Homo sapiens: one gene and its partners. The protein of the gene in region 7 interacts with the protein of the main gene of each other region in a biochemical or structural test. Each region holds a gene or a part of one and is shown on either strand. Other genes may lie near its edges. The genes, in order: SOS1, SYNJ1, PXN, DNM1, FASLG, MAP4K1 and NCK1.

Region 1 (4,669 bases), on a different chromosome or scaffold from region 7:
AGGAAACAGACGCTATGCTGACGCACAAACACTTTTTTAAAAAATCAGAGAGTATAAAAATAGAACAGCGCTGCCCTATAGATGAAAAATTGTTCAAAAGATTTAAATAAGTTAAAACACCGAAACTGAGCTTATATAGGACACAAACTCAAAATAAATCTAATTCAGGTTTTTGAGGCTTTTCCCTATGAAGGTATAAAATAGCAGTAAATACTTTAAAGAAAACGATCTTCTGGCTTAAGTTTTTTCAATACCATCTTCTGGAAAAGAGAAATTCCCAGGCAAGGGAAACACCTTTTCCCTCACTTCAATATGCAAAGCTTTTATTTCCCATAAAATGTCAATTCTGAATTATTATCCTTACTTCAGGGTCATCTCATTTTTCTAAAATAGACTACCAAACTGGACACAGCACCACCTACCATTTATCTACTCGTGTTGTTTTAGGTCTCATTAACTTGTACTTTGTTGCCTACAACAACTCTGTAACAGACGTGAAATTCCTACTCTCAACTTTTTATTTGTGCATATTGCTTTGTGCTTTCTTACTTAGGATAAGGAAATAGTCTCTTCATACCATTGCCAGATTTAGAATGATCCATCCAATTGGATAATTTTTCCCCTAGTTTTTGGGACAAACCCCAAAGTTCTGATATAGTCAGCAAATTATGATACATCCAGAAACACCGAATCTGAGAGACAAGCTATAAATTAGATTCCACCTAAGACCCTGTTGCAATCTTTTAAGCAAGTTAACCACTTTCTAATTCACCTAAATTTAAATTTTTCTTTCCACAAAGCTTTCCCTTTAGTGAGCAAACTACATCAATAGACTAATAATTGGGTTTTGTAAAAAAATAAAAATAATAATAATGACCAGTATCTATACATAAAAAATCTATGCATTCCAATGGAAGTGTATCTATAGTCAGAGCTTACCTATATCCTATTTCAAGAAAAAAAAATTACTGACAATATCTTCATAGTACGCACGTTTGCCCAGAAATGAACAAGCCATTTATATTATTGGCAGTTCAAACCAAGGAAGTAATTTATTTATTTTTTTTGAGCTCACATCTGTACCAGATCCTTTTACTTAATTATTAACACATATAATTAAAAAATTACAACATATTCTATTCATGAAAACAATCACCTTATATGAGTCAATGTAACATGGTAGAAAATATACTCTATTTAGAGTCAAGAAACCTAATTCTTGACTTGTTCTGGAATTAACTCGTAATAGAACTTCTGGGAAATCATATAATCTTCAGGGGCCTTGGGATTTGTCTACAAAGTGAAGGCTTGGGCATCTCTTCTAGCATTAGAGATCTATAGCTCCATTTTGTACATTACTGTTAAAATATTTGAGGGATAAAGTTGGCTGACACCACAGTGAAGTCTGAATAAAGTAAGGTTAAACCAGTTTCTCTTCTGTTTTTATGACAATGTCTAACCAAACTATAATAATCTAAAAGATGTCTGTAAGTCGTGTCTTATAGTATTCATTAAATTTTCTCATGTATTATATCCAATGTCTTTTATTACAATTCTATATAATAAAATAAAAATGTGTAAGTTAAATGTTAGCTTTGTTTCAGTGTAAGCCACAACCTGTACTGCATGTTCTCCAATAAACATACCTACTAACCAAATCACAAATCCCTTTTCTCTTTGGGGAGGCTGAAGAAAGATGAGAGGAGAAGAGCAGACCAGTAGTTCTTAAAAACAAATGGTAACTTGATCTGTTACCATTGTAGTGAGGCCTTAAAAGTCCATTTCAGTTTTACAAGTTCACAGATGGTCTATTAAAAACCATTCTATGTTGCCAGTAATAACTTCAGTAACAGACCTTACAGAATAGCCCAAATAAGCTAACAGTTAACACTAATGTGTGTGTACTGTAAACCACAACTCACGAAAGCTGCTTGTAGACTCCAGTTTCACCAGTAATATATTTATGACATAAATTAAAATATTCAGTTAAGCTTCAAAAGAAGACAGAAAAGAAAAATATCAAAAAACTTAGCCACAACACTGGCCTTTTATTTCTCAAAAAATTATTGGAAGGAATTTTTTAAAAACATTTTTTTTAAGTAAAATAATCTCATCAACTTAAATTTTCAATACACTTAACTTTGGCAAAGTTCTATAAATCTTGAAATTTAAGTGTTTTATATTCATTATAAGTAAAAGCACTCAAAATATTACTCTATACCAAAGCTAAAAATTGATATAGAAAAGAAGTATCAGACAGAAATAACTAATAAAACATCATTACAAAAGTACCATGTCCACGGACTTTACCTAACATTGTACACATTAAGGAAAGAAGACTTTCAGGACTACAAAACAAGTATCAGCTTGTTCCAGTTAATTTTGCTTTAAAGTGTCCTCATTTAAAAAAATAAATAAAAGGGACAGTTCCCCAGACAATAGTTGTAACCATTCTTCAGCTGCTTATTAATAATCATAAATTAACTTTGTGAAATATAGCAATTTAGAGAAAACTTCTATCACTCAATCAAGTCTTACAGAAACAATTAAAAATTTTGTAATTTGAAAATGTTTTCCTGCCCAAGTATCACTGACTTGTGACAGTAAACACTAGTAGTAAGTCTTCTTACAATGCTCTACAGGAAAAAAAAAAAAAAAAAAAAAATTAAAACTTCTTTCTTACAAACACAGAGAAAAATCTAAAGATTAATTTTACTCCAAATGAGTCTAGGAACCCCAAACAAAAGTACTTAGGATGAAATGATAAAGTTTAGAATGCTCATGTTATAAAAATTCTATGAGTCCTCTAAGGGGACTTAAAAACCAGGAAAATGTGGCAAGAAGGGCAATTTGAACTTTTATAGCCTTAAAAATCTCTTAAGCAGAAAAGAAGTATTTTGCAATCACAAATTTTGGGTAACTGAATAAAAAACATTTTTATAGTTGTAGTCTAGATCATAAAGAACATAGAAAAGGTTGGTGAAGCACAACTAAATCGGCAGGTCATACTACCGAAAAATTGTACCTCTCAAAAAACAGCTTTATATGGAAAAAAATGACAATAACCTATTTGTTTTTCATGTAAAATCTAGGCAGCCTATTTACATTTCCTATGATTTTTTAAATTTTTGGGTCAGTAAAATAAATACACTGACTATAGACATTTCTAGGTGAAAAATTATAATAAAACTGGAATCCTTGGCTTCCAGGATTGCAACATTTATTATTAAATAATCAGGTTTAGGAGTGGAAACTGAGAGAAAGCAATGCCGTGTATATTTGTACTACCAGCACAATTTTGTTATATTAAAATTTTTATTTATAATCTCAGAAATGGAAAAAGAAGAAAGAAAAAAAAGATAAAGGAGTAAAAAACTTTTTAGATCCCAATAATGATGATTTACTACTAACTTTAGTCTTGTTTCTGTCACTTTCTAACTGGATAAATTTAGCCAAGTGACCTCATTTTCTCATCTATAACTGATGGTAAGGTTAAAAAAAAGTATTTAAGTGTAGTAGAAAAAGTAAAACATTCCAAAGAAATATAAAGTGGGGTATTTTTAGTCAAAGAAAAGAGGTCTTTGGTTGTTAGTTTCTTTTCTATTTTAGGCACAATAAACCCATGCAGGAAAGAAAATCAGTTTGAAGCAGGAAAACAAAAGTGACAGGCAACTGCATAATTCTTACCTGCGTACATATGGTACGTAAGCCTCTCTATAAGTTTAATAACAGTTCCTGCTTTGATAATTGGAATTCCAGCCTTGGGCTGCATGTTCTCTTCAAATATAATATTCTCTTCAGAGTCAGGCTCTGCAAATCTATAAACATCAGCACTAGGCAGCCTCATCTGCTCCTCTTTCTCTTCCTGTAGCATTGTTACATCAAGCATCCTTTCCAGTGTACTCCGGTACTGTAAAGATATCAATGCTGCCATCCAATTGTTTTTCTCTTCAGCTGACTTGGCAGAAAATATAACACTATTTTCATCTTTTAAAATTATTTCAAAAGCATGCTTGTATTCATTGGTGTCATCTTTATCATTAATTTGTACCTTTCGCATAAAAAACTTTTCTTTAAGACGATATTCTGCATTGCTAGCACCAGGAAGTCTTGGCTGCCCATGATTTGATTTACAGCAAATCATTAAGCCATCAAAGAGAAATATGTGTCTCTCATGTTTGGCTCCTACACGTGTAAGAGTTCCTTCCATTATAAATTCATTACAACACTGTCCAATGTCTTTTCCCTCCCAACCATCAATATTCTTCTGAATCTCGTTCATCTTCTTGATTGCTAGTTGTTTCCCCTTCATTTGCTGACTATAAAACCGACATGCAGATTCACTGGAATAAAGAAAAAGACATTATTAGTACATAGATGACAGAAAACCTAGAGCTCATGTAAGTAAGGGAAAGTGTAAAAGTAGATTTTTACAAGTCTCACTGAGAAGGTATTCACTAATTCCCCAAATAGATTAGAATTACAAAATTACACAATTTTGAAAATTAAAGCAACCTAGAAATTTTTTTCAGTGTTCTAAAAAGCACAATGATTGCTGACAAAATTCTCCTTAAATGTAACTACAAAATGATTATTTCTATCTTGGCTACTAAATATTTAGAATGACAACTAATAAAAAGTAGCCCAATACAGTAAAAAAAAGTAATCT
Region 2 (4,669 bases), on a different chromosome or scaffold from region 7:
GAAAATGAGAAGAAACAATGGCAATTGTTTCTAGAAATGTCAAAGAGCCAAGAGAAATTCATGGCTTAAAAATCAAGGAAAGAAAGTGGAGCATGGAAGGGGAGTAGTCAGTGGTGTCTTGTAACACAGAAAGATGAGAAGAAATGAGGACAGAAATGTGTCCTTCTGATTTAATAACAGGAAGGGAAGCTGTTGTTGACATTTCATGAGAGTGATCTCAGAAGTGATGAAGTCAGATAGTGGTAAATTGATATGGATGGAAGGTGAAGAAGTGGAGAAAAGTGTCTGTAGACAACTCTTTAAGAAAGTTTGGGGGGAAAGAGAAGAGGGCAATTGCTCTAGGAAGATTGGAGGTCCTAGGGTGGTGGTTTTGGATGGGACAGGCTTGAGAATGCACAGTGCTAATGGAAAAGTAGAGGAGAAAGGGCTGATGGTTTGGGGGAAGGGCAAGGCAGAATAGTAGAGCAGTGTCACTGAGAAAATTAGGCTGGGTGGGGCCCATTTGTTCCATCCTCAGATACCCAAGTGACAACCATGTAATGAGACTCCAGCTTGGGGGCAGGCTGTTGAAGTAGGGGTTCCCATCTTAAGACTTCCCTCTTCTCTGTGAAGTGTTGAAGTGATCTGCAGGAGTGGGACAGCTCACAGTTTCAGGAGGGTTAAGGAGTTTTGCAGTAAAGCTCCTGAAGAGCAAAGGGTGAGGGGAAGAGCAAACCAGCAAATCATGGAATTGCCAGGCACTTTAGGCCAGAAGAGACTGAAAAGCATAATTTCAAATGTGACTGCAGTTGTCAGGACTGGGTGGTTTTCTTTAGCAGAGGCAGTCAGCAATCCAAGTGTTATCACAGAAAGATTAAACAGGGGAATCAGTGCAGGGATGGGGTTATGTCAAGCACGTGCAATGGAAGAAGAGTGAAGTAGGGTAATGTTTGAGATGAAGAACCATAGAATCTGAAGGTAGGTACAGAAGAAAGCAGAATCAGATGGAGGTAAAAGTTAGAGGGATCAAACCCTGGCTTCTGAAGAAATCAAAAGAGAAGGAGTAGCCAAGGGAGAGAACTGAAAAGCTGGGAGGCCAAAGTCAGAGTGAAGCTTTTGAGTTTATTATTTCAGAAGAGTGCAGTTCTGAGGGGTGAGGGTTAGGAGTGAAGGCGAATGTCCATAAGGATAGGACCAAGGCATTTTGCTATTGAACGAGTTGTCCACATGGACTTTGATGCCACGCAGAAAGATGGTGCGGGACCTGACTTACAGTCTTGCTCTCTGCTTAGTCCTCAGTGAGTGGGTTCAGGAAATGGAAGAATGGACGTTGGAGATGACTGTAGCAAGTGGGGGTAGAGGATGTTACATAAATTCCTGATGGCATAGCCTCAGAGCAGTAGGACTTTTTGTTCAGGGTTGGAAGACTAATGTTCTGGAATGGCAGTTAGGTTGCAAGGGTTACCTTGTGCCCACTTTCCTACCCAGAAGTAAGTGGAGATGAGGAGACCCTGGGGGAGAACCAGTGTTTACTTAATTAAAGCAAAGCGGGTCTTTGTGGGGTGAGGGTTGCAGGGAGGAGCCTTCTGGGGGAAGACTGTGTGGCTCCTGAGAGCTTGTTGACTCTGAGGCTGGACCTGGGTTAGGCAAGGGAGTGGGGCAGTTCCACAGAGCACAGTGGACAGGTTTGGAAGGAGAGCAGGAAACTTGAGTTGGCTTGCACTGGAGAAGCTGCTCTGGGGCATATTGAAAGCCCATTGGGTCACCCCAGCTCCAAGTGGTTGGTCACCTGACATCTTATTGCTCAGAGACAATAGATACCTTTACATCTTCTGAAACAAGCATTTCTACTAATTGTGGTTTTATACATGCCTTCATGCTTAATCCATGTGTGTTTGCAATGACATAATGTTCATATTTGTTTTGTGTATTTTAACTTTTTAAAACCTAAGGTGAAAAAAATCTCTGAGCAAGTTAAAATGGAGTTATCTCTGATCAAGCCTGCTTTTCCTTAGGTGATGTTGATGACTATAGTGCTGAAGTGGAGGAACTTCTTCCTCAGCATCTCCAGCCATCTTCAAGTTCCGGCCTTGGTACTTCCCCCAGCTCTTCACCCCGAACTAGTCCCTGCCAGTCACCTACAATATCAGAGGGTCCTGTACCTTCCCTTCCCATCAGACCAAGCCGAGCACCGTCAAGAACTCCTGGGCCTCCCAGTGCACAGAGTATGCATTTTATTTGAAAGTTTTGTATGGCTTCCTGTGGCCAATGTGCTTGATGTTGGAGAGTCATCGTTTAAGTTTCATACCTAGGTGATAAAGTGCACCCTGTTTTCTCCGGTACAGAATAGGAAAACTTGTAGATGATAAGCTCTCAATGGAAAGGAAACTTGCTATAACTGTCACTAGATGACAATTGTTCTTAATCTTTTTTCTATGTGGTTAGGTTTGTCTATGTCTTATAACTGATGATTTTCTATGGTATGAACCCGTTAACTATTTGAGCTTTTTCTTCTCTCTACTGGCCAGACTACAAAATGGCTTAACTCAAACAATACTTTGTGCATATCAATAGGGCCACTTAGTAAATTAGCTTTCAGCACCTGAGGCCTAGGTAAGAAGTCAGCACAGAGGTAGCATTATTGCTGCCATGGTACCAAAGGGCAGTTTAATAGTAGACTGCTTTTGTTATTCATACTGAAAATACATGCCCTTTCTTTACACCATTGTGCACATTTTATAGAACATTACACATATATATGAAGGACTGTTCCCTTCTGTCAACAGCTACTTAGAAGCTGATCTTCTTACCTCCTGTGCGCTTTTTAGGTTCTCCTATTGACGCGCAGCCAGCAACGCCGCTGCCGCAGAAAGACCCCGCCCAGCCCTTGGAGCCCAAGCGGCCGCCGCCGCCCCGCCCGGTCGCCCCTCCCACACGCCCGGCTCCCCCACAGAGACCTCCTCCGCCTTCAGGTGACAACCTTTTATTTCCATTTCTGCTAGATGTAAAATTCTTCACTCTATTTTAAAATGTTTTGCATGTTTTCCAATCTCTAGCTTCTGGATTTTACAGTTTTTTCTATCATTATTGCTATTTCTTAGCTTTTCTCTAAAGAACATGGTAGGCGCAACAGACAAGGTAGAGTGTTTGCAGAGTAGATTCCTCTAAGGTGTTTTCACAGCTGCCTTTAGCTGCCTTCTCACCAGCCAGCCAGAGAGGTTTATTTTGTTTTTGCTAATTTGATCTAGTTAGGCATGTAAACTGTTCTTAGGTAAAATTAGGTTTAATTTTTTTCAAAATCCTCATTTCTGGATGATTTATAAGCATAAAATAATTAAAATGTACTAATTTCTGTAAAAGTATAATAAAACTGGAGAGCATACGTATTAATGTACAATTGTATGTATTTGTTTAATGTTCTTTTAAATTAAATATAGTGCTGTTACTTCAATTATAAGCATATGCATTGAATAATAGTTTTTGTAGTACGTAGATAATATGTAATTCCTGCATGATACTTGATGTCATGGATACTATAGCAATCTTTGACATTTCACTTCTGTATTTAATGTCATTTCCTTTCTGCTGCCTATTTTCTTATGAACTATAAGGGGCTAGGAGTCCTGCACCCACTAGAAAGGAATTTGGAGGTAACCATTTACATTTGTTAGCATGTGTGAATCGTGGTTCATTAATGTTTTACACCTGAAAGACATTTTAGATTTGTTTGATAAAAGTCAAAATGAATGACATTCTAGTTTAAAACTAATCCACAAATAAAACTAATAAAGGCTTTCATTTCCCAGGTAGGCTGGGATTGTTCATCAGGCCTAATTTTTTTTTTAATAAATGTGGTCGATTCATTTACAAAGATTTAATACCCAAAAGTTATATTAATTTTAAAAGTCATTCAGGTACAGTAAATACAGAACATTTCCCAAGTATCTGATTAGTGATACATTTATTTTCTAGTGGAAAAGCTTTTGGATTAGCAAAGAACTGTATGATTTTCTTTTCCTTTCTTCATAAGGAAATTTTTATTCACAAAGGGTCACTTTTTGTTTGAAGTATAGTTTATTTGGTTTACATGAAAACTCACAGAGCTCAGTTGGAGTTATACATTTGACAAGTTTATTTAATCTAAATCTCAAGAAAAGATGAGATGAGTTTTCACAATTCCTCAGAAGAACTTTTACAAATCCAGTGTTACTAAGGCTCACTGTGCATGTGTAGCCTGGTCTGTTTCTATTGTAGCTTGCCTAGTGACATGGCTGAGCAATTCAGGTCTTACTACAGACTGACTTTGCCTGTGTGTAGATCTTAATGACTGCGTGTGATAAGAATAGCTAAATTATTTCAGCATTACAGCTTCTGCCGAATACAGCTAAGTGATCATTTCTCCATTGACCTACAGAAAACATTTAATTTTTCCCTTTTCAAGCTCCTGCTTTTATAGAAAACATTTAATTTTTCCCTTTTCAAGCTCCTGCTTTTATTTAAATTTCCATGATAATTTTTGCTTATCTTCTGCTTTAATTAGGAAAACATCCTGTAGAAAATAAATTTAAAATGAATCTGTCAAAAGTTAGGCAAGCCAGTGGATTACAGTGAAATCTGTCTTAATTTTAAAAATTGCTCCCCTTCATAATTCTTTTGTAAGTAGTGTTTGCAACATGTTTTTTCATCCTAT
Region 3 (4,669 bases), on a different chromosome or scaffold from region 7:
GAAAGGAAATGAGTTGAGTCTCTGCTGGTGCGCAGACCGGAAGAATCTGGACAATAGAATTCACGTCAGGGGTGGAAATATAAATTTGGGAGTCACCAGCACACAGGTTATAAAAGAGGTCATGCAGTTGATTAACTGACCGAGGTGCATAGTTGAAAAACAAGGAGTTCAGAGAAATCCTTTGGGAAAACACCCAGGTGCACCTCCACTCAGGGATCAGAGGAGACTTGGGAAAAGAAGGTGGGAGGGTCTCTGGAGAAGCAAGCGGAGCTTAAGGAAGGGAGAAAAAAATATGCAGCTAAAGGGTGAGACAGGTGTCTCAGCAAAAGAGCAAACGTGGAAGAATGGGTCAGACTGTGTTAAAATTTAAAAAGGAACAGGCCGGGCGCGGTGGCTCACACCTGTAATCCCAGCACTGGGAGACCGAGGCAGGCAGATCACAAGGTCAAGAGTTCAAGACCAGCCTGGCCACTATGGTGAAACCCCATCTCTACTAAAACCACAAAAATTAGCTGGGCATGGTGGCGGGCGCCTGTAGTCCCAGCTACTCAGGAGGCTGAGGCAGAAGAATCACTTGAACCCGGGAGGCGGAGGTTGCAGTGAGCCAAGATCATGCCACTGCACTCCAGCCTGGGTGACAGAGAAAGACTCTGTCTCAAAAAAGATAATAATAAATTTAAAAATAAATAAAATAAAAAGGAGCAAAGTAAAAAAGTTAGTAAGTGCAGGTCAGGCACAATGGCTCACATCTGTAATTCCAACACTTTGGGAGGCCGAGGTGGGCGGATTACCTGAGCTCAGGAGTTCGAGACCAGCCTGGCCAACATGGCAAACGAAACCCCATCTCTACCAAAAATACAAAATTAGCCAGGTATGGTGGTGTGTGCCTGTAATCTCAGCTACTGCGGACTGCGGGGGGTTGGGGGGGGTGGGGCGGAGGCAGGAGGATCGCTTGACCCTGGGAGACAGAGGTTGCAGTGAGCCAAGATCATGCCACTGTACTCCATTCTGGGCGGCAGAGCAAGACTCTCTAAAAAACAAAACAAAAAACTGAAGTTAGTAAAAGCAGAAAAGTAAAAAGAGGGAAACAGGCAAGACACATGGTGGCTCACACTTATAATACCAGCACTTTGGAAAGCCAAGGCAGAAGGATTGCTTGAGGCCAGGAGTTCGAGACCAGCCTGAGAAACATAATGAGACTCCGGCTGTATAAAAAATAAAAAATTGGCCAGGCATGGTGGCACGTGCCTGTAGTCCCAGCTGCTCAGGAGGCTGAGGGCAGGAGGATCGCTTGAGTTGGAGGTTACAGTGAGCTGTGATCAGATCACTGTACTTCATCCTGGGCAAGAGAACAAGACCCTGTGAGAAAAGAGAAAGAAGAGAAGAGAAGGAGAGGAGAAAAACGGAACCAGAAGAAAAAGGAGAGCCAGGTGGACCTGCAGATGGGGACATCGGGGCCACATGGGGCCACAGCCATCTACACTGACAGAAGATGATGACCATGAGGTATAAAAGGGGGTAGAAAGATGGGGACGTGGGGGGTGGAGTAAAGCGTGAGCAAATAGAGGCCATCCTTGAGGATCTGTCTACTATGTGCTAAGCACCTCACTCAGTCTCCCAACAATGTGGAAGGCAGGCATTACACCCATTTCATAGCCTGCTTTCAATAGGGTTTTTTTTTGTTGTTGTTGTTGTTTTTGAGACGGAATCTCGCTCTGTCACCCAGGCTGGAGTGCAGTGGCCTGATCTTGGCTCACCGCAACCTCCGCCTCCCAGGTTCAAGGAATTCTCCTGCCTCAGCCTCCCGAGTAGCTGGGATTACAAGCATGCGCCACCACGCCCAGCTAATTTTGTATTTTAGTAGAGATGGGGTTTCTCCATGTTGGTCAAGCTGGTCTCGAACTCCCAACTTCAGGCCTCAGGTGTTCCACCTGCCTCAGCCTCCCAAGGCTGGGATTACAGGCATGAGCCACCGCGCCTGGCCTCAGTAGGGTTTTTATGTTTTAGAAGAGGCCAAAGTCTCCAAGGCTCATTCAAAACAATACACACAGACCGGGATCCAGAAGAGAATCGGCCTGAAGCTCCCTGGAGCTCCCTGGAGGGTTCCACCCCCCTTGCTCCAGCTCACCCAGAGTTCTACGATTCAAAACAGCTGGAAATGTGTGCCCTGCTCTCCCCAACAAGAAAACAGAACAGAACATGGCTGTTTCTGCCAAGCGAATTCTGAATAAGCTGCATTCCATTTCATTAAAACAATTACCTGAGCTCCAGCCAAGAATTACATAAAGCTTCCTCCCAGCATCACCCCCTCCCCCATAAAACACACATCATGCTGCTTTCAAATAGGCAGAGTGAAGCTCTGAGCCCTCGCTAGAAGACCTCATAGTCCTCGCCAAGTGGCCAGCCTCGGCATCTCTGCACGCTGACATAGATGACATGAGGCTGAAAGAAGACCTTGGCATGAAGCCCTCCCCTCATGAGAGCCTGCTGGCTGCCCGAAATGTTTCTAGTAGGCACCAGGGCCCTCACCTCTGCCTCAGAGCCAAGAGGGCCACTGGTGCCAGAATCCAGCTATTTCCCCAAAACAGACTGGAGGTCCAAGAGGGCCAGCTTTGAGTCAGCACAAACTAGACAGGAGGGACCAAGGGAGTGGGGATTCCAGGAGGGGGAGCCTGAAGGCTGGAAAACTGGATGGTCAGACTTGAGCTATAAGCAAAAGCCTGGGGACACTCAGCCATCACTGCCCACAGGTTAATGGTGTTCCACTGGCCACAGATAAGGGGTTCATGATGTGAGGCAAAAGACATCTCCTCCCCGCCCACAGGCCTCAAGCTGCCCAGAGACCGTTCCCTGAATTATGTAAAGCCTTGCTGTGGCTGGGCACCGTGGCTCACACCTGTAATCCCAGCACTTTGGGAGGCCAAGGCGGGCGGATCACCTGAGGTCAGGAGTTCGAGACCAGGCTGGCCAACATGGTGAAACCCCATCTCTACTAAAATTACAAAAATTAGTCAGGCGTGATGACGCACGCCCATAATCCTAGCTACTGCGGAGGCTGAGGCACAAGAATCACTTGAACCTGGGAGGCAGAGGTTGCAGTGAGCCAAGATCACACCATTGCACTCCAGCCTGGGTGACAGAGTAAGACTCCGTCTCAAAAAAAAAAAAAAAAGTCTTGCTCTGCATCCCATCAGCCTAGACAACCCATCTCAAACTCCAACCAGAGTTCGGCATCTCACATGCTTCAACCCTGGTCTGATTAATGTCATCATGCTCAAATAACTCATGAGGCTGCCTCCACACCTATGGACACACACTGTCTCTGGGCCTGTCTTTTTTCTGCACAGGTCACAGCACTGTGCTCCCCATTTCCCAGATGATAGTCAGCAGTCACTGTCACCTGAGGCCCCCCCAGCTACTGTCTCTGCTCACCCAGTCTTCCCACCACCTGCTCAATCACAGGAGACCAGCAGTCATTCAGGCCAACCATAGGCAGGCGCAGGCCAGCACCTAGGCCCAACAACTCCAAGCCCATCATGGAAAAGCAGGGTTTCCTTACTTTTCTCCAACTTTTCATTATAAAAATGTCTAAGCACACAGAGAAGTTGAGAGGCCCGGGTACTCTCACTTAGATTGAATGGCTGTCATTGTTTTACCACTTTGTGTAAACGCATGGCCCTTGTGCTCTCTGCCCTTTATGTGTATATCCTTTTTTTCATTATATCATTTAAAACTAAGTTGAGCTGGGTGCAGTGGCTCACACCTGTAATCTCAGCACTTTGGGAGGCCGAGGTGGGTGGATCACCTGAGGTCGGGAGTTTGAGACCAGCCTGACCAGCCTGACCAACATGGAGAAACCTGGTTTCTACTAAAAATAAAAAAATTAGCCAGGCGTGGTGGTGCATGCCTGTAATCCCAGCTACTCGGGAGACTGAGGCAGCAGAATCGCTTGAACCCAGGAGGCAGAGGTTGTAGTGAGCTGAGATGGTGCCACTGCACTCCAGCCTGGGCAACAAGAGCAAAACTCTGCCTCAAAACAAACAAACAAAAAAAAACAAATAAAACTAAGTTGAGGCCAGGTGGGGTAGCTCACACCTGTAATCCCAGCACTTTGGGAGGCTGAGGCAGGTGGATCACCTGAGGTCAGGAGTTGAAGACCAGCCTAAACAATATGGTGAAACCCCACCTCTACTAAAAATACAAAAATTAGCCGGGTGTGGTGGCATGCACCCATAGTCCCAGCTACTCAGGAGGCTGAGACAGGAGAATTGCTTAAGCCCAGGAGGCGGAGGTTGCAGTGAGCCAAGATCGCGCTGCTGCACTCCAGCCTGGGTGACAGGGCAAGACTCTGCCTCAAAAATAAAAAATGAAAAAATAAAAATAAGTTGCAAGACATCATGACACTTCACTCCTAAATACTTTAGCATGCACCTAACAATAACAATATTCTCCCATAAAACCACAATACCACAATCACACAAGAAATAAGCATTAAAAGTCCGTCTTTAAGGGAAGATTTGGCCACTGGGGTTCCACTGGGCCTGGCCAACCGCATGTTCTGTCTACCACTGGCCCAGCATCCAAGGCCTCCCTGGAGAGGCCAGCCCTGAGCACCACTGGTTAGGCAATCGGTTAGTTAGTTGGAAGACTTATCAGGGTATGAATGTAC
Region 4 (3,500 bases), on a different chromosome or scaffold from region 7:
ACAGCCAGCGCCTTATTCATGGAGAGGCCCAGGGAGGGAAAAAGATACATTCAAGCTCTACAGAGCCAGAGGTGGAACCCAGGTCTCTTGCTCCCAGCCCAGAGCCTGACCCAGACTCACAAGTCTTCTTGCACCCCAGGGTCAGGAGCTAAGGGTCTTAGGTACAACAGACTAGACCCAGAGCTCCTAGGTTCAAAGCCCCCTCTTGAAGCCTCTCCACTGCCTCACGTCTGGGGAAGTGGACGCTGCTGGGGAGGAGTCAGGAATTATACTGGAGAAGGAGAAGGATGGTAAGCCCTGTGTATATTCATCATTTCTGCGCACCAGGCAAATGCTTTTCATTCTTGCCAGACAGTGAGCAGGGCAGCCTCTTTCTGTCTGCCACTGTATCCCAGTGCCCAGGACAGGGCTTAGCACACAAGGGGCACTCAATAAATTCTGATTGAATCTCCAAGTCCTCGAATCTGTGCTCTGATATAGAGATTATCATTTTACAGAGGAAGCAGCTGAGGCTCAGAGAGGTGAAGTGACTCACCCAAGGTCACACAGCAGAGTGGGGATTCAAAGCTGAGTGTCTGTTGGACCCTCAGCCTGGAAACTTCCTCATTCAATGGTGCTGTCTCAAACCCAAGAAGCCAGACTTGGCTTTTTATGTAATTCAATTAAATTCAGTCTGTGCCGGGCCCTGTGCCGGGCTCTGGGGATGGGAGATGATGAGTCAGACAGTTCCCACCCTGAGGAACTCACAGTGTGGTGGGAGAGACAGACAAGTAAACAGATAATGCAATGCAGCGTGGTATGTGCTAGAACAGAGGTGTGCCAGGCGGCACAGAGGGAGGGGGTTTGCTGGGGGGTGGGAGGACTTCCGGTCTCAATCTCTCCCATCCTTTACTCAAAGACTCCTTTGGGGGCGTGACTTCCAGTTTTGGGAGTCCCCCAGGGCTGTGGAGATAGAACAGCTGTTCTCATAGAAGCTGGGGTGGGTGTGGGGGCCGGGGGTCCACCCTCTTCTCCACCAGCTCCTCACCAGCAACACCATGGCAACAGTAGTTGCCATGGAAACTGCAGGAGGGGCTGGAAAGGATGGGACTCCCCACAAAGAGTCCCCCACACAGAGACGTGGACTTTCCCTGGAGTTCTTCCCTGAGAGGCCTCTCCTTGAGCAGACAGGCCCACGCAGCCCTGGTGAGCCTGAGGGGTGGAGGTCTCCAAGGTGCCACATAGCGGGTGTGGGGAGCCCAGGGCCCAGCTGGCAAGAATGCTGGGTGGTCAGGGTCTGGGCCAGCTGCCTGCTGCCTCCCCAGGGCTACTTAAAGGGCAAGTAGCTTCTGGGAAGCAGAGACTAGAGGCAGGGCCATGTCTGGGGGTCAACCCCTCCCAGAGCCAAGATCTCCTGGTGCCCAGATGGGGAGGTGGCCCATCTCTGTCATGGCCCAGGTTCTCAAAGTGAGGCCCTCACGCGGCCTGCATCAGAATGCCTTGGGTAGTTTGTCCAGACGCATGCTCCTCAGGCATGCTGGGCTAGAATCTCAAGAGGGCTTCATGGGGAGGCAGAATCTGGGTTTTAAATGGATCCTCAGGTGGTTTCCACACTCCGTGTTAAGTTTAAGGACCATCTGCCCCATGCTGAGGAGCCAGTGCCAGGCTGGCTCCTTCATCGAATCCTACATTGGCCTTTCCTTGGCCTGGTGCCTGGTGCCAGGACCCGAGAGGTCTGCTTCCCAGTCTCACGTCTGGACTGACAGTGGGGAGGACCAGCAGGTCCCCAGGTCCGGACAATGAGCTCCTCACTCACTTCCGGGTTCCTGCCTGGCACAGGCCCCGCACGTAGTAGGCGTGCAGGCAACACGAGAAGGAATGTGCATGACTCAGCAGCTCCCTAGCTCTTCCCTTTCACCTGGACACACTGTCCCACTTTAGCCCTCTGTTTAAGGGTCCCCTAGGTGGCCCTCCTTCTCCCCAGTGGGGATCCAGACTAGATCCAGCCTCCAGCTCCTGGTTAGGCTAAGGGAGGACAGAACAGGTGCCCAGAGAAAAGTATCAGGCCCACCAGCCTCGGAGGCCGCGTGCTGTGCCCAGCGTGGGAGGGGCGGCTGCTGGCATGCCAGTTCTCCCCACTCATTTGGAGCAGATGGTGGGTTCCCAGGGAGGCTGTGCCTGGCCATCTGCAGAGGCACCTTCAAACGTGAAACATGAGGGGACGAAACAAACACCTCTCAGGAACCCCAAATGCCACACTCCCTGTCTGAACTGGAGTTGTCACCGTGAGAGGGGTCTGGAGAAACTGAACCCAAGGGCTGATGTGACCCCTACCCCTACCCCTACTCTAGGACCTGAGACTTGGGATCAGAGCTCTGGGATCCTGGTTCCCAGGCCCTGCTGAATGCAAATGACCCCAGGAAGTAACGTGCTTAACTGGGCGTGCACCCAGTGCCGGTCATTCTTCTATGCCTCCTCTTTTTTGGGCTCTGATGTCAGATGGACCCCACATTGAATGTCTGAGCTGTCATGTAGGAGCTGTGTGGCTGTGCACAAATGACCATACCTCTCTGAGCCTCAGTTTCCACATCAGTAAAATGGGTTGCTGTGAGGCTTATACAGACTGATGGCTGAACCAATCGTGGCTACTATGATTATAAATAACGATAGCTTGCTGGGCATGCTGAGACCACAGGCTGGACTCCCACAGCCTCGTCACCAGAAGAGGCAGCGGGGAGAGAGTTGGACGGTGGGTTTCCTGGAGGATGGCAGTGAGCTTGGGGGTGAGGGCAGGATATTTCCAGCCAGATCTTGACCCTGGAGGTGGAAGGCAAGGGGGGTGGGCAGGGGCGTGCTCTGAAGCAGGGAGTTGGGGTGCCTGCAAGGGAGTGGGTAGGCCAAGAAATACAGTTGGGAGGAGGTGAGGCTACCCCCAGGCAACAAGTCGCTCTCTGTTCCTGCTGCCCCAGGGGACCCTAGGCAGCCCCGTCACAGCTCATGAATTTCAAGCTGAGGTCTGAACACTGCAGGGCAGTTCTGGCCTTGGCTTTCCTTGATGTTCTGATGGCCCCGGGAGCAGGGACTAGGCTAGACTTGTTTGTCACAATATCCCAGCACCTAGCCCTGGGTCTGGCATGTAGCAGACTCTCAGGACACCCGCACTGACCAAAAGAGGGAATGGAAGATGAGCTCTACCATCGGCTTCATTGTATAGGGTAGAAACTGAGGCACAAAAGGGAAGAGTCTTGCCCAAGATCATGGTGCAAGTTGGTGACAAGGTAGGGCTCCTGAGTCCGGGTAGGTGCTCTCTCCACAGCAATCTTTCTCCCTATTAAGCAGAGCCTATTACCTTCCCTTATTTCTTATCTTCTCATCCTTCCTACTTTCTTTCCCACCCTCCCTCCCTCCCTTCCATCAATCCAAGGGTTGATGACTTTGTATTTTCAAAAGGGAAATAGATCTCTTTTGCCTCTAATTTTTAAAATCATGTGTTCTCCATTTTAAAAGATTCAGAAAATGAC
Region 5 (3,806 bases), on a different chromosome or scaffold from region 7:
TGTAATTTTTGTCCAGCAACATCCAGCTTCTGGGATGACAGCTTAAAGAAAATAGGATTTTTGCAAGGGGAATACATTGGAGGAAGAGAGTATTTTGGAGTTGAGAGTCTTTCCAAGGTGCTGGTTGTCATGACAGATGATGACATTTATGCTGGACATAGAGAGAAGTGAAGACGTGGAAGGAGCTGATGTGTATATAAGAAAATAATAAAGTTTATTAATTAGAAGTCTCAATATTTTCAAAAATATTTTAGAAAAGAAAATGTTGGACCAATTCCGCTGGAATAATAGAAGATGATGTTGTGAAAATAAGACACCTAAAATCAAATTCCAAAGGAGTTACTATAATTTTTAATGATAACAAAGTCTAGGGAGAGCCCATGATAGTGAGTGGTTGAAGAAAATAGGAAAAGGCCGTTGTGAATGACAAGCATGAGAATACAAGAAACCAGGTGCTTAGATGGATCCCACAGATCAGTGGCCTCTGGAGAATGAAGTGGCTCTAATAGAGTGGCTTAGTAGTGGCAGACACTATTTTTTGATGTTCTATGTGTCTGATACTTTCAGCTCTTTTTTTGTTCAAGGAAGGTCAAGTGACCTAACCAGTGCTTACATAGGCAGTACGTGGAAGAACAAAGATTCAAATCTAAGTTTTTTAGTCCAAAATATGTGCCCTTTCCACTGTGCCATGGTTCTGCCTTCAGGAAAATATAATTTCTCATCAAATCTATGGAAAGTTGGCTAAGCTTAACATTGGTCATAATATTGGTAATGGAAACTCTGGGAGGTGAAGAGGAAAGAGAATATATAGAGAGAAGGAAGGCCTAGCAAAGGCAGAAAGATTTGATTCATAGTTCTTCTCACTCCAGTAAATTATTCTTAAAAGTGGTCTGATATCATAATGAATGAAGAAATCAAGGAGGAAAGAAATAATAAGCAAAAAATTCAAATATTAGTAAATTCTAAAAATTATTTGTATCCTAACATATACTTTTTATTACATGTTTTCATTTCACAAAAATGCACATCTACATAAATATTTATTATATTATAGGAAAACATCATTAGTAGCTGACAATCAATGATTTTTAAGCACTATTAGAGTTGATTGTCAGGAAGCATTCAAAATCTTGACCAAATGCAACCCATATTTTCCTAATATGTACTTCACAATATCTACATTCTCTCTTTAGTCATACACACACACACACACACACACACACACACACCCCTACAATTGCACTGGAAATACACATGCTGTGTTAGGAATGAAATGAGTCCCCAAAACATCTCTCTTGCTTATCTGTTAGTTTCACCGATGGCTCAGGATATGCATTTAGAAGTGAAGATGCTGCCAGTGGGGCATTGGCCTCTTTCAGCCTCTTTAGCTTATTATGCAAGCCTCTAGTCTTCCTTTTCCATCCCTTAAATCCTCAGGTCACAACCATGTATCTGAAAGACAGTCCCCCTTGAGGTAGCAAGGCCCACCTTGAGAGGTGAGTTAAAAGGTGTCCTTTTCAATCTGCCTAAATACTCTCAGGCACTAAGATGAGTGTAGAACACCTGGTAGCTGCTTTTTCATGCTTCTCCCTCTTCACATGGCAGCCCAGAGTTCTATGTTCTTCCGTCATATTCCTCCATTTGTCTGGCTCATAAACATTAGGTGAGTTGAGGAGCTACAGACATTTTGAACCCTGTGGTCTCAAGGTCCACTTGGTTCATGTCTTCTTACTTGACCTCAAATGCATGTAAGAAGACCCTCACTGAATACAACATTCTCGGTGCCTGTAACAAAGAATCATAATGGAAAGAATCCCAAAGTGCTTCTCTTAGAGCTTATATAAGCCGAAAAACGTCTGAGATTCCTCAAAATTGACCAGAGAGAGCTCAGATACGTTGACATATAAATGATCAGCACTGGTAAGATTGAACACTGCCCCCAGGTAGCTGCTGCGGGCCCACATCTGCCCAGTAGTGCAGTAGCTCATCATCTTCCCCTCCATCATCACCAGATCCTGGGGATACTTAGAGTTCCTCATGTAGACCTTGTGGCTCAGGGGCAGGTTGTTGCAAGATTGACCCCGGAAGTATACTTTGGAATATACAAAGTACAGCCCAGTTTCATTGATCACAAGGCCACCCTTCTTATACTTCACTCCAGAAAGCAGGACAATTCCATAGGTGTCTTCCCATTCCAGAGGCATGGACCTTGAGTTGGACTTGCCTGAAATAAATCCAAAAGGAGCTTTCAACAAGGAATAGTCATGCATCCAACAAACTAAGTTTCTAAGGCAAAACTGTGGGCCCTTCCTTCAACAAATGTTTCACCCAGAATGACAGCTGGTATAGAACTGGCTGAGGGGTCAGAACTTGATCCATCACAGAATTTCCTCAACAACGTTGTCCTATTTTGTCATCCACACAATTGGAACAATAGTATATACCCGTAATCCATTGCAGTAAGAAATTATTGAGAAAATATTTGCTCTCTGGAACAAAGATTTTACTATCTTCAGAACTAGCACCAAATCTGCTAGGCTTTGAAGTCCTTTCCTGAAGGAAAAAGCCAAATCCAAGGAACTCTAAAGTTCTAAAGTTGGGAAGGATCTTAGGGACCATCTGGTCCATCTTCTCACCTGCAGTAAGAATTATTCAGCCCCTCAATTTGGGGTACAGTTCCCTTTTCTTTGTATCCCCACAACATCATGAACATAACCTAAATCTCTGAAGTACTGAAATTATCATAAGTGCCTGTCTTTCCCTATTAGATGTCAAGCTCCCTGGGGGCAAGAGCCATGTGCTACTCATCTTCACATCCCCAAATTGGCACACAGCAGGTATTCAGTAAGTGTCTGCTGATGTGACCGGATCATTCTATAATTTCTGCCTAAATAATTCCAGGGACAATAGCCTACCACTTTCTGTGATATTTATTCCATTATTTATGTAGTTTATAATGGGAGTGCCCATACCATATCATTTCACTCCACTTTACAGGCACATATTGAAACTCTACAAGTGCCAGGATTGAGTCTCCCTTCTCACTCCTATTTATACTCTTGGACAAAGCAGAGTGAAGCTCTTCCAGAAAACCAAGAAAGCACTGACTAAAATAAGTCCTCATTCCTCACCTTCTCATCTCTCACCTCTTGGATCTGTGCCCCCAATCCCCCAAGGGACTTTGGAATGACTGAAAAGAATGAGCTTCTTATGGGCAGGGGTCATGTCATAATCAGCTCCAGGTCTCCAATTTAGAAGAGGGCCTTGCCCAGAGAATAGGGGATCAAAGTGTGTTCATAAGACTGACTCGACAAGAAAAGTGTTAGTATTATTGGGTTCAAATACTGTCTCCAGGAAGTAACAACTCTCTAGAGCCTGGTAATGGAAACCAGGCAGCCATTTTGCCTTTTGCCAAAAGCTTTCCCAAATCTCACCTGTACCTTCCAGATACAGACCTGTTAAATGGGCCACTTTCCTCAGCTCCTTTTTTTCAGGGGGTGGACTGGGGTGGCCTGTATCATAGAGAGAGGAAAAATATATGTTAAAATGAAATAGCAACTATTATTTTGGTGGGAATTTAAATCCAATCATTTTAAAAAAAAGATTTTAAAACCGTAAATGGCAACAGTCTAACATATACTAATCATGTAGGTCTGAACTGCAGGATTCATAGTAGTCTATATTTCAGAAACAAAGAGGTAAAAAAATAAACCAAATTAAGATTGACATATGTATAAATTATAATGTTACAATAAAACATAATTAATATAAACATTTATTCATAAAGAGCTGTCATGTCAGTTATT
Region 6 (4,669 bases), on a different chromosome or scaffold from region 7:
TACACACACACATACATGTATACATATATACACATGTACATATATACGCATATACATATATACACATATACATATATACACACATATACATATATACACATGTACATATATATGCATATACATATATATACACGTATACATATATACACACATATACATGTATATGTGTGTGTATATATGTATATGTATATATGTATGATTAATTATGCTATGCATTTCATCTTTGAATCATTTCCAGTGCTGGAGGTATAAATTATACATACTTTTAGCCGGTAGCCAACCAGGCACGGCTGTAATCCCACCAGTTTGGGAGGCCGAGGTGGGAGGATCACTTAAGCCCAGGAGTTCAGGACCAGCTTGGGCAACATAGTGAGACCCTGCCTCTATAAAACATTTTTTTAAAAATTAGCCAAGCTGGGCCGGGCGCGGTGGCTCACGCCTGTAATGCCAGCACTTTGGGAGGCCGAGGCTGGCAGATAACTTGAGGTCAGGAGTTTGAGACCAGCCTGGCCAACATGGCAAAACTCCGTCTCTACTAAAAATACAAAAATTAGCTGGGCGTGGTGGTGGGCGCCTGTAGTCATGGCTACTTAGGAGGCTGAGGCAGGAGGATCACTTAGACTGGGGAGGCAGAGGTTGCAGTGAGCCAAGATAGCACCACTGCACTCCAGCCTGGGCGACAGAGTGAGACTCCATCTCAGAAAAAAAAAAAAAAAATTAGCCAAGCGCTACTAGGGAGGGTGAGGTGCATGGATTGCTTGAGTCTCCGAGGTCAAGGCTGCAGTGAGCCATGATCGCGCCACTGCACTCCAGCAGCCTGGGCGACAGAGCGAGATACTATCTCAAAAAAAAAAAAAAAAAAAAAAAAAGACTTTAGAGAGTTCTAATTCATTTTATGCATTTGTTGGCAAATTTGATGCCACAAAGGTGCATTATCACAACACTGACTACGTGTGTAGGCATTATGCATGTACGTAAAAACACTGAAACTTCCTGAATAAAGAGATGTTCTTTTTGTACATCTCCATTTATGAGAGGTAAAATTTCTTGAGATCTTGGCTCTTTGGGCAACTGCATATGTGGTAGTGACTCATGGAGGTTTTGATGGATCTTGTCAAAAGACTCTAACTTCTGGACTCAAGCAATCCTCCCACCTCAGCTTCCCAAGTAGCTGGGACCATAGGTGTGTGCCACCACGCCCAGCTAATTTTTTAAATTTTTAGTAGCTGGGCGCGGTGGCTCATGACTGTAATCCCAGCACTTTGGGAGGCCGAGGCGGGCAGATCACAAGGTCAGGAGATCGAGACCATCCTGGCTAACACGGTGAAACCCCGTCTCTACTAAAAATACAAAAAATTAGCCGGGCCTGGTGGCGGGCACCTGTAGTCCCAGCTACTCGGGAGGCTGAGGCAGGAGAATGGTGTGAACCTGGGAGGCGGAGCTTGCAGTGAGCCGAGATCGCGCCACTGCACTCCAGCCTGGGTGACACAGTGAGACTCTGTCTCAAAAAAAAAAAAGCATGCCAGACGCGGTGGCTCATGCCTGTAATCCCAGCACTTTGGGAGGCCGAGGCAGGTGGATCACCTGAGGTCAGGAGTTCAAGACGAGCCTAACCAACATGGTGAAACCCCACCTCTACTAAAAATACAAAATTAGCCGGGCATGGTGCTGCATTGCCTGTAATCTCAGCTACTCCGGAGGCTGAGGCAGGAGAATCACTTGAACTAGGGAGGCGGAGGTTGTAGTGAGCTAAGATCGCGCCACTGTACTCTAGCCTGGGCAACAAGCAAAACTCCGTCTTTAAAAAAAAAAAAAAAAAAGCAGAAACAACAATCCTGCCTCAGCCTGCCTCCTCAAAGGTATTTATATGACCTTGGGTAAGCCACTTACCCTCTCTGTGCTTCAATTTCCCCATTTGTGAAATGGGGGATAACATCTCTGTGATATCTTCTTCACTCTGTGAAGCTTTATGCCATGTAATGATAGGAGATAAGTGTAGGGCACAGAGAAGCGCTCAACAAATGTCACCTGTTGTTACTGTCAGTCCTGCCACCCCCTCCCCACCCCACCAGGCATCCCCAGCCCCGTCCAGAGGTGTAAGTCCTCAGCAGAGCTGAACCTCACCTTTCTCTTCATCTTTTCCTTCTTGGGGGGCAGAAGTGGGGGCTTGTCAAGCTCCCGGGAGGGTGGGTTCCAGAGTGAGGGTTCTGAGAGGGGTTAGGAGAAAATCAGCCCCCAAGAACCCCCAACCCTCCCGCCCTCCACCCTAGCCTGTCCCATTACCTGAATGGGCGGTGAGGTGGGGGCTGCTGGTGGATGGGGGAGGCCCAGGACGGGGGCTGTTTGGTGGGGGCCCACTGGCACACCGGACCAGCACCCCCGGGCTCAGCTGCCCATCATCCCCCATGCTCCCAGGACCCTCGTCTGATGGAGAACGGAACTTGGGCTTTGGAGACGGGAATGGAGCGTGGGGAAATACATCAGATGATCTCAGAGAGGGCACCCTTTTGCAACTCAAGTCCCTGCCTCCACCAGAACTAACAGCTGTGGCTCTGACCCACCCCCCCGACAACATCTTGTGCCCCCTCCAGCCTTCCCCTGACATCCCCAGCCTGGACATCAACACACTTCAGAAACTAATGGGTTAATGCTGGATATATAGCAGGGGCTTCCTAGGACCAGCTACTGACCAGTGTCTAAGAGGCTAAATATTTTGAATCCGACCCTGAGGTTGAGGGATGCCACTTCCAGATCCCAATGTAGCCATCATCCTGGTCTCCCCAATTCCCTGCCCTGGAGAGCCCAGTATCCCAGCATCTAAGGACCTGGCCTCCTGGCCCCCAGTGGCCCTGAGGCCCCAGCCTCCCAGCTCTGGCCCAGGGCCTTACCTTGGGGGGAAGTGGAGGAGGTGTGTCCTCTGCAGGGGTGGGGCTGAAACACAAAGATGGGTTAAATAGCTGGGGGGCTGGGGAACAAGGACTCGGGGAAGATGGCATGGTTCTGGGCTGGAGGCCCGGGACTGGGGTCTGAGGTGAGGAGGATTAAGGGATGACTGGTTCTGCCTGGAGCAGAGGATTAAAGGATTAATAGCCAGGCTGGACATAGTGGCTCATGCCTGTAATCGCAGTGCTTTGGGAGGCCAGGGCAGGATGGCTTGAGCCCAGGAATTCGAGACTAGCCTGGGCAGCATAGCAAGACCTTGTCTCCAGAAAAAAATTAAAAATTAGCCAGGCGTGGCAGGTGCGCCTGTGACCGCAGCTACTCAGGAGGCTGAGGTGGGAGGATTGCTTGAGCCTGGGAGGTTGAGGCTGCAGTAAGCCATCATTGCACTCCTGCACTTAGCCTTGGTGCCAAAACAAATCATGAGTTTGAGACCAGCCTGGACAACATGGCAAGACCCCATCCTACAAAAAAATGATTAGCCTGTTTCCAAAAAAAAGACTAATAACAGTAACAGCAACTCTTGGAGGTGGAGTGCTGACAGTGCACCACGGCTTTGCACCTTTACACCACCTAGTAACACAGGTGACATCAGCGCCGTGGCCCTGCTCTCCCTGTGCTGGCGCCACACACAGGCTGTCGCACGTGATGGGTGAAGTGAGTGCGCGCACCTGGATGGAGCCTGACTCGGCCTGTGGGCTGGGGAGTATGGGGGCCTGGGCTGACTGTTGGGTCTGGATCTGGGGCTCAGTATCTGGTCTTTGGGAGATTTCCAGGTGCCAAGGTTCAGCCTGAGGGCGGGCAAAAAGATAGGAAAAGCTGAGGGCTGGGGCTGAAGGCTGGAGGGTGGGTCTGGGGTGAGAGTGACATTCGGGAGGAGTTTGAGACTGGGATGTGGCTGAGGGTGCAGGGTCATGGAGGATAGGTGGGGTCAAGTCAGAGATTGGAGCAGCAGCACATTCTAGAAGGAACTGGGGTCAGCTCTGGGGTGGAGAGCAGGTGGGGGGCTGACGCTGAGGGTCAAGTCAAAAGATTGTATAAGAAGATGGAAGGAGGCCAAGTGCAGTGGCTCACACCTGTAATCGCAGCACTTTGGGAGGCTGAGATGGGCGGATCATGAGGTCAGGAGTTTGAAACCAGCCTGGCCAACATGGTGAAACCCCATCTCTACTAAAAATACAAAAAATTAGCTGGGCATGGTGGCAGGTGCCTGTAATCCCAGCTACTCAGGAGGCTGAGACAGGAGAATCGCTTGAACCCGGGGAGCCGAGGTTGTAGTGAGCTGAGACTACGTCACTGCACTCCAGCCTGGGCCACAGAGTGAGACTCCATCTCAAAAAAAAAAAAAAAAAAAAAGAAGAAGGTGGAAGGAAAGAAGGAAAGTGGGAGCTGGAGCTGGGATCAGGTTGGGGGTCAGGGGTTGGAGGTGAAGGGTTAAGGGAGGTGGGGTTAGGGAACAGGGCCTAGGTAGCTGGGCAGAGGGGCTGCATTGAGGGTCTAATCAGGGCTCAGGGCTCGGGGCTAGAAGAAAGGCAGGGGTGCAGCGGGGTCAGGAGTGGAGGAAAGGCCACATCAGGGGATTGTAGGAAGGTGGGGGCTGAGGTGGGGCCTGTGGAGCTGCAGGCAGGGCCTCACTTACATGTCCACGTCGTCATAGTCATCGTCAGACGACTCTGACAGTTGCTTCCTGAAGGGTGACAGGTATGAGCCTTGGGGGCCTTGTCCACAT
Region 7 (4,669 bases):
TTCAAAAGATCCTGAATATCTTTATAATTAAAGAAATGAAAACTAAACTGAAATACCACACTTTACCTATCAGGGTGACAAAAGTATTACCAATATTATCTAGTCCTCCCCAGAATGTACAAAAATAGCATTCTACTACATTACTGGTATAATAACTAAAAATTTATATAATGCTTTTAAGTTTTATAATTATGGCACTTTTCAACATTTACAGAAGAGAATAGTATAATGAATCCTATACCTATCACCCAATTTTATCAATATTATGCCTTGTGGTTCAGCTATCCCCCTAATTTTTGGTGGGGGAACTGGAATCCCATGATTTCATTAAGCACTAACAGATTAAAAACCCATACCCCTCAAAAATGAACAAATCAAGGGCTCCTGACCTTTTCCCTTTTTTAACCCATATATGCCGGAGGTTGCAATTTCTTGTGTGAAAAATCAGACCTTGGTGACGACCTTGAGCATGATATAAATAACTCTCACAAGCTTAGCGTTCCAATAATGGAACACTAGGCACAAATGGGTTAAGCCATGGACCTCCCCTCCTCCTGCCTAATGGCAGTGTGGTGAAACATAGAACCTCTACTCACAATGTTTCTGATGCATAAAAATATATAAGATTGCAAACAAGTCAATTATACTAAAATTAAATTATCAGTATATTTTCAAAAGCTCATTTTGAAAAGGTGTTCCTTTATTAAGAACTCCTGCAACACTTATTTCATCTAATGCTAATATTCAATTTTTGCTAAGTGTATTTTTTTAAACATTCTTACAGTTGGTGTGAACTGGGATCCAAACTAAGTCGATATATTGCACTTAAGCTAACATGTTTTAAGTCTCTGACACTGTTCTCTTTCCCCACTCTATGTCATTTATTTAAGAAGCTGGCTTCACTTGTCCTGTAGCATTTCCCACATCGTGAATTTGGCTAGTGTATATTTTCATGGTGTTCCTCTATCCCCCCTATCTCCTATAAACTGGTAATTATTTCTAGAGGCTTTACTTTTTCTAGGTTGTTTTGTCATTGTTGCAAGAATAATTCGTTAAGTATTCTTGTGTACTTGTTATTGCCATTTATTAGGAGGCACATTATGTCTGCCTGAACCATTTTCTGTGATGTTAAGACTGAATGGTAGATTTGTAGCACTGAACTGATTTATCCATTATTATAAAGTTCCCCCATCAAACCTCTACCCAATGGTTTTACCTGCCACTGATGATCACTGCCTAGATCAACTATTTCAATAATGATGATGTGCTAGCTCTACCTGCTTTCAGAAACTGTGATTATTCTCAAAGGAAAATTTTGCTTATTGTTCTATTACCCTAAAACATAAAACCTTACAGAAAAGGTAGAATATATACTTCTGTGTGGTTATGACACCAACTGGACGTAGAGTTAGGCTCACTTGTTTTCATTTTTTGAAGATCACTTTATTTTCCCTTTTTAAAATGTAATTGTTTCATAATTATGTAAAACATTTGGATGGTTCTAAAAGCTAAACTATCAAGCAAGGTAGATGTTTAAATATCAAACATGTTTGAACATTATGTTTAATATTGTTTATATGAATGTTTAAACATTAAATATGCTTAAATATCAAACATATTTAAAACATTTAGAGAGGTCTTCTTCCATACCTTCTCTTTTCTCTCCCCTCTCCCATCCACCCCACTGGACAGCCATTTATTTATTTATTTATTTATTTATTTATTTATTTGAGACGGAGTCTCGCACTGCACTGTCACCCAGGCTGGAGTGCAGTGGAGCGACCCTGGCTCACTGCAACCTCCGCCTCCCAGGTTCATGGCATTCTCCTGCCTCAGCCTCCGAGTAGCCGGGACTACAGGTGCCCGCCACCATGCCCGGCTAATTTTTTTGTATTTTTAGTGGAGACGGGGTTTCACTGTGTTAGCCAGGATGGTTTCGATCTCCTGACCTCGTGATCCGCCTGCCTCGGCCTCCCAAAGTGCTGGGATTACAGGCGTGAGCCACCGCGCCCGGCCTGGACAGCTATTTATTTGTTTTGGTTTATGTTTCTATTTTTTTTTAAATAATTTAAGGAAAGTATTCAAGAAAAATATATAAGAAAATTGAAAATTCTAATTTTTATCTACCCCCACAACAAAACATACACACACACATGCACACAGGCGCGCACACACACACACACATACACATAGGCATAGACTATATTGCCTGAATCTTTTCATTTTCAGTTTAACAATCTATCCTTAAGATCATTCCACAGCAGCACATGAGACTTCCTTTACTAATACATCTACTACTTCTAACAATTGCAGAGTGCGTCATCATTATGTAAGTAGCACTTTCTTCAACTAGACCTTACTGATGGTCAATGGGTTGTTTGTAATTTTCTGGGATTAAATAGTGCTGCAATGAACAGCCTCATACATGTGTCATTTTGATTTTCTGTTAGTGTACCTTTGGGTTAGAATCATAGAAGAATGCTGAGTTACAGCTAAAGTTTGTATAATTTTGTGAGATACTGCTAAATTCTGTATTCATAAACTATTTTTAAAAACTCCTAACAATATATCAGTGATTATTTCCCCACAGCCTTGCCAACAAACTATGTTGTCAATCTTTTGGATTTTTGCCAATCTAATAGGGGAGAAATAGTATTTCAGAGTTGTAATTTGTATTTCTCTTATTACAGTGATTTCTTTTCCCATATTTAAGGGACATTTACATTTGTTTTTCTGTGTAAAGTGCTTGTTCATATCTTTTCCCCATATCCTAGAATAATGACTCCAACTCCATCAAGTTCCTTACCTGAAAAGGCTCCACATGGCCAGAATTTACCGTTTGTTCCAGCCAAAACCTGGTGATAGGCAGATGGTCACCTGAACCCCCATTTAGAGCAGTTACCTTAGAAAGCTTGAAATTATAAATCCTTTCTCTGTCCCTTTGTGACTTAAATCTTCTACCATCAAGAACTATCTTCCCAAGGACCTGAGAACTACCTCTTTGGAATGCAAACAATCAAAAAGATAACTTTCACTTTTGTTCCCAGTCCCTGGCGAGAGGGTAAGGGCCAAACATTGGTGGGCCTAATTTGTACCACCACCTCCTGTCATAAATAATAAGTTTGTTTCTCTTCCAGATAAATGCCAATAACAAACCCAGATGGCCTACTCACATGGACCACCTATTGCCCTTAAAAACCACTCAGTGGCCGGGCGCGGTGGCTCACGCCTGTAATCCCAGCACTTTGGGAGGCCGAGGCAGGCAGATCACGAGGTCAGGAAACTAAGACCATCCTGGCCAACATGGTGAAACCCCGTCTCTACTAAAATACAATAAAATTAGCTGGGCGTGGTGGTGCGTGCCTGTAGTCCCAGCTACTCAGGAGACTGAGGCAGGGGAATTGCTTGAGTCTGGGAGGCGGAGACTGCAGTGAGCTGAGATCACGCCACTGCACTCCAGCCTGGTGACAGAGACAGACTCCGTCTCAAAACAAAACAAAAAAACCATCTTTCTTTCCCTTAGCAGTGTCTTTCCCTTAGCATACTCAACCTTTAAAAAAGTCTCTTCCCCTTTTGTTTTGGCAAAAGTGAGTTGAGTTCACACTGGACACTCTTCCCTACTGCAATAGTTACTGAATAAAATCTGTCCTTACCATTTTAACTAGTGTCCAGTTTATCTTCGACATCTATAATTCTAGTTATGGACCAACACAAGTACTGGGCTCTCCCAAATTGGACATGCATAGAATATCCAAAGAAGCATCACAAAGGCACTAAGAAATGAAGTACAATATAAACACCACTCAAGCCCCACACATCCCTGCATAAAGCAAAGATGCAAATACCACAGCAAAAGTTTAGAAAATGAAACCAATATTGGAACTACTGCCCACAGTTCCTCCGCTTCCTAGATCCTATGTCTTACTTTTTCTTGCTTTACCCTTCATTTTGCTGGAGCACGTCCTCTAGTTGTTTCCTGAGTTAAAAATATATTGGAATTAAATTTTTTAGAATGCATATCTGAAAGTGATTTTGTTCTCTCATACATGACTGGTAGTTTGGCTATCTATATACAGGGGAGTTACTGTTTAATGGGTACAGAGTTTAAGTTTTGCAAGATGAAGATTATTCTGGAAATAGATGGTTGTACAACAATGTGAATGTACTTAATGCCAATATTTCTAGCCAGGTGAACCAGGAAGAGGAGTCATAAGGGATTAAGGTCCATCTTAACGACCTCATTTTACCTCAGTTACCTCTTTAAAGACACTATATCCAAATATAGTCACATTATGAACTACTGGGGGTTAGGACTTCAATGTGTGAATTTTTGAAGGGACAAAATTCAGTTCATAACATTTGTTTTTACCACAATTTTTTAGAAATTTAAAAATATGATTACAATCAACTATAAGGCCATTTATGTTTAATTCCCATATAGTATATAAGACTTAGATCAATTAATGTACTTACATGTTTGCTGTGTTAATTATGACAATAAATTCATTATGTTACACGTTTTCATAATTGGTGGTTTATATCTAATTGCTCATAATTTAGCAAGATTATTGCTCTTACGTTTGTAGTCACATAATGGCTTCTTTCTTTAGATAAAATGTAATAATCTTCAGATTATAGGATGATGATACTGATCTTGGATCAGTTTATT

What was found.
Region 1: the proteins of NCK1 (region 7) and SOS1 form a complex in vitro, tested with the Homo sapiens proteins (2 studies listed by BioGRID).
Region 2: the proteins of NCK1 (region 7) and SYNJ1 interact in a test that uses a peptide from one of them, tested with the Homo sapiens proteins (one study listed by IntAct).
Region 3: the proteins of NCK1 (region 7) and PXN form a complex in vitro, tested with the Homo sapiens proteins (one study listed by BioGRID).
Region 4: the proteins of NCK1 (region 7) and DNM1 form a complex in vitro, tested with the Homo sapiens proteins (one study listed by BioGRID).
Region 5: the proteins of NCK1 (region 7) and FASLG form a complex in vitro, tested with the Homo sapiens proteins (2 studies listed by BioGRID and IntAct, with this or other methods).
Region 6: the proteins of NCK1 (region 7) and MAP4K1 form a complex in vitro, tested with the Homo sapiens proteins (2 studies listed by BioGRID, with this or other methods).

The regions. Positions count from the first base shown.
Region 1 is NC_000002.12:39,018,883-39,023,551, forward strand, and holds part of SOS1 (son of sevenless homolog 1), read right to left. Parts: intron 4,344-4,669; coding exon 3,688-4,343; intron 1-3,687.
Region 2 is NC_000021.9:32,643,928-32,648,596, reverse strand, and holds part of SYNJ1 (synaptojanin-1), read left to right. Parts: intron 1-1,994; coding exon 1,995-2,204; intron 2,205-2,807; coding exon 2,808-2,951; intron 2,952-3,590; coding exon 3,591-3,629; intron 3,630-4,669. UniProt on the Homo sapiens protein: Phosphatase that acts on various phosphoinositides, including phosphatidylinositol 4-phosphate, phosphatidylinositol (4,5)-bisphosphate and phosphatidylinositol (3,4,5)-trisphosphate. Has a role in clathrin-mediated endocytosis.
Region 3 is NC_000012.12:120,255,037-120,259,705, forward strand, and holds part of PXN (paxillin), read right to left. Parts: intron 1-4,669. UniProt on the Homo sapiens protein: Cytoskeletal protein involved in actin-membrane attachment at sites of cell adhesion to the extracellular matrix (focal adhesion). Recruits other proteins such as TRIM15 to focal adhesion.
Region 4 is NC_000009.12:128,213,379-128,216,878, reverse strand, and holds part of DNM1 (dynamin-1), read right to left. Parts: intron 1-3,500. UniProt on the Homo sapiens protein: Catalyzes the hydrolysis of GTP and utilizes this energy to mediate vesicle scission and participates in many forms of endocytosis, such as clathrin-mediated endocytosis or synaptic vesicle endocytosis as well as rapid endocytosis (RE).
Region 5 is NC_000001.11:172,664,040-172,667,845, reverse strand, and holds the end of FASLG (tumor necrosis factor ligand superfamily member 6), read right to left. Parts: intron 3,513-3,806; coding exon 3,456-3,512; intron 2,225-3,455; coding exon 1,830-2,224; 3' UTR 970-1,829; downstream 1-969. UniProt on the Homo sapiens protein: Cytokine that binds to TNFRSF6/FAS, a receptor that transduces the apoptotic signal into cells. Involved in cytotoxic T-cell-mediated apoptosis, natural killer cell-mediated apoptosis and in T-cell development.
Region 6 is NC_000019.10:38,603,285-38,607,953, forward strand, and holds part of MAP4K1 (mitogen-activated protein kinase kinase kinase kinase 1), read right to left. Parts: intron 4,628-4,669; coding exon 4,580-4,627; intron 3,732-4,579; coding exon of another isoform or gene 3,612-3,731; intron 2,932-3,611; coding exon 2,889-2,931; intron 2,447-2,888; coding exon 2,284-2,446; intron 2,208-2,283; coding exon 2,125-2,207; intron 1-2,124. UniProt on the Homo sapiens protein: Serine/threonine-protein kinase, which plays a role in the response to environmental stress. Appears to act upstream of the JUN N-terminal pathway.
Region 7 is NC_000003.12:136,920,621-136,925,289, reverse strand, and holds part of NCK1 (SH2/SH3 adapter protein NCK1), read right to left. Parts: intron 1-4,669. UniProt on the Homo sapiens protein: Adapter protein which associates with tyrosine-phosphorylated growth factor receptors, such as KDR and PDGFRB, or their cellular substrates. Maintains low levels of EIF2S1 phosphorylation by promoting its dephosphorylation by PP1.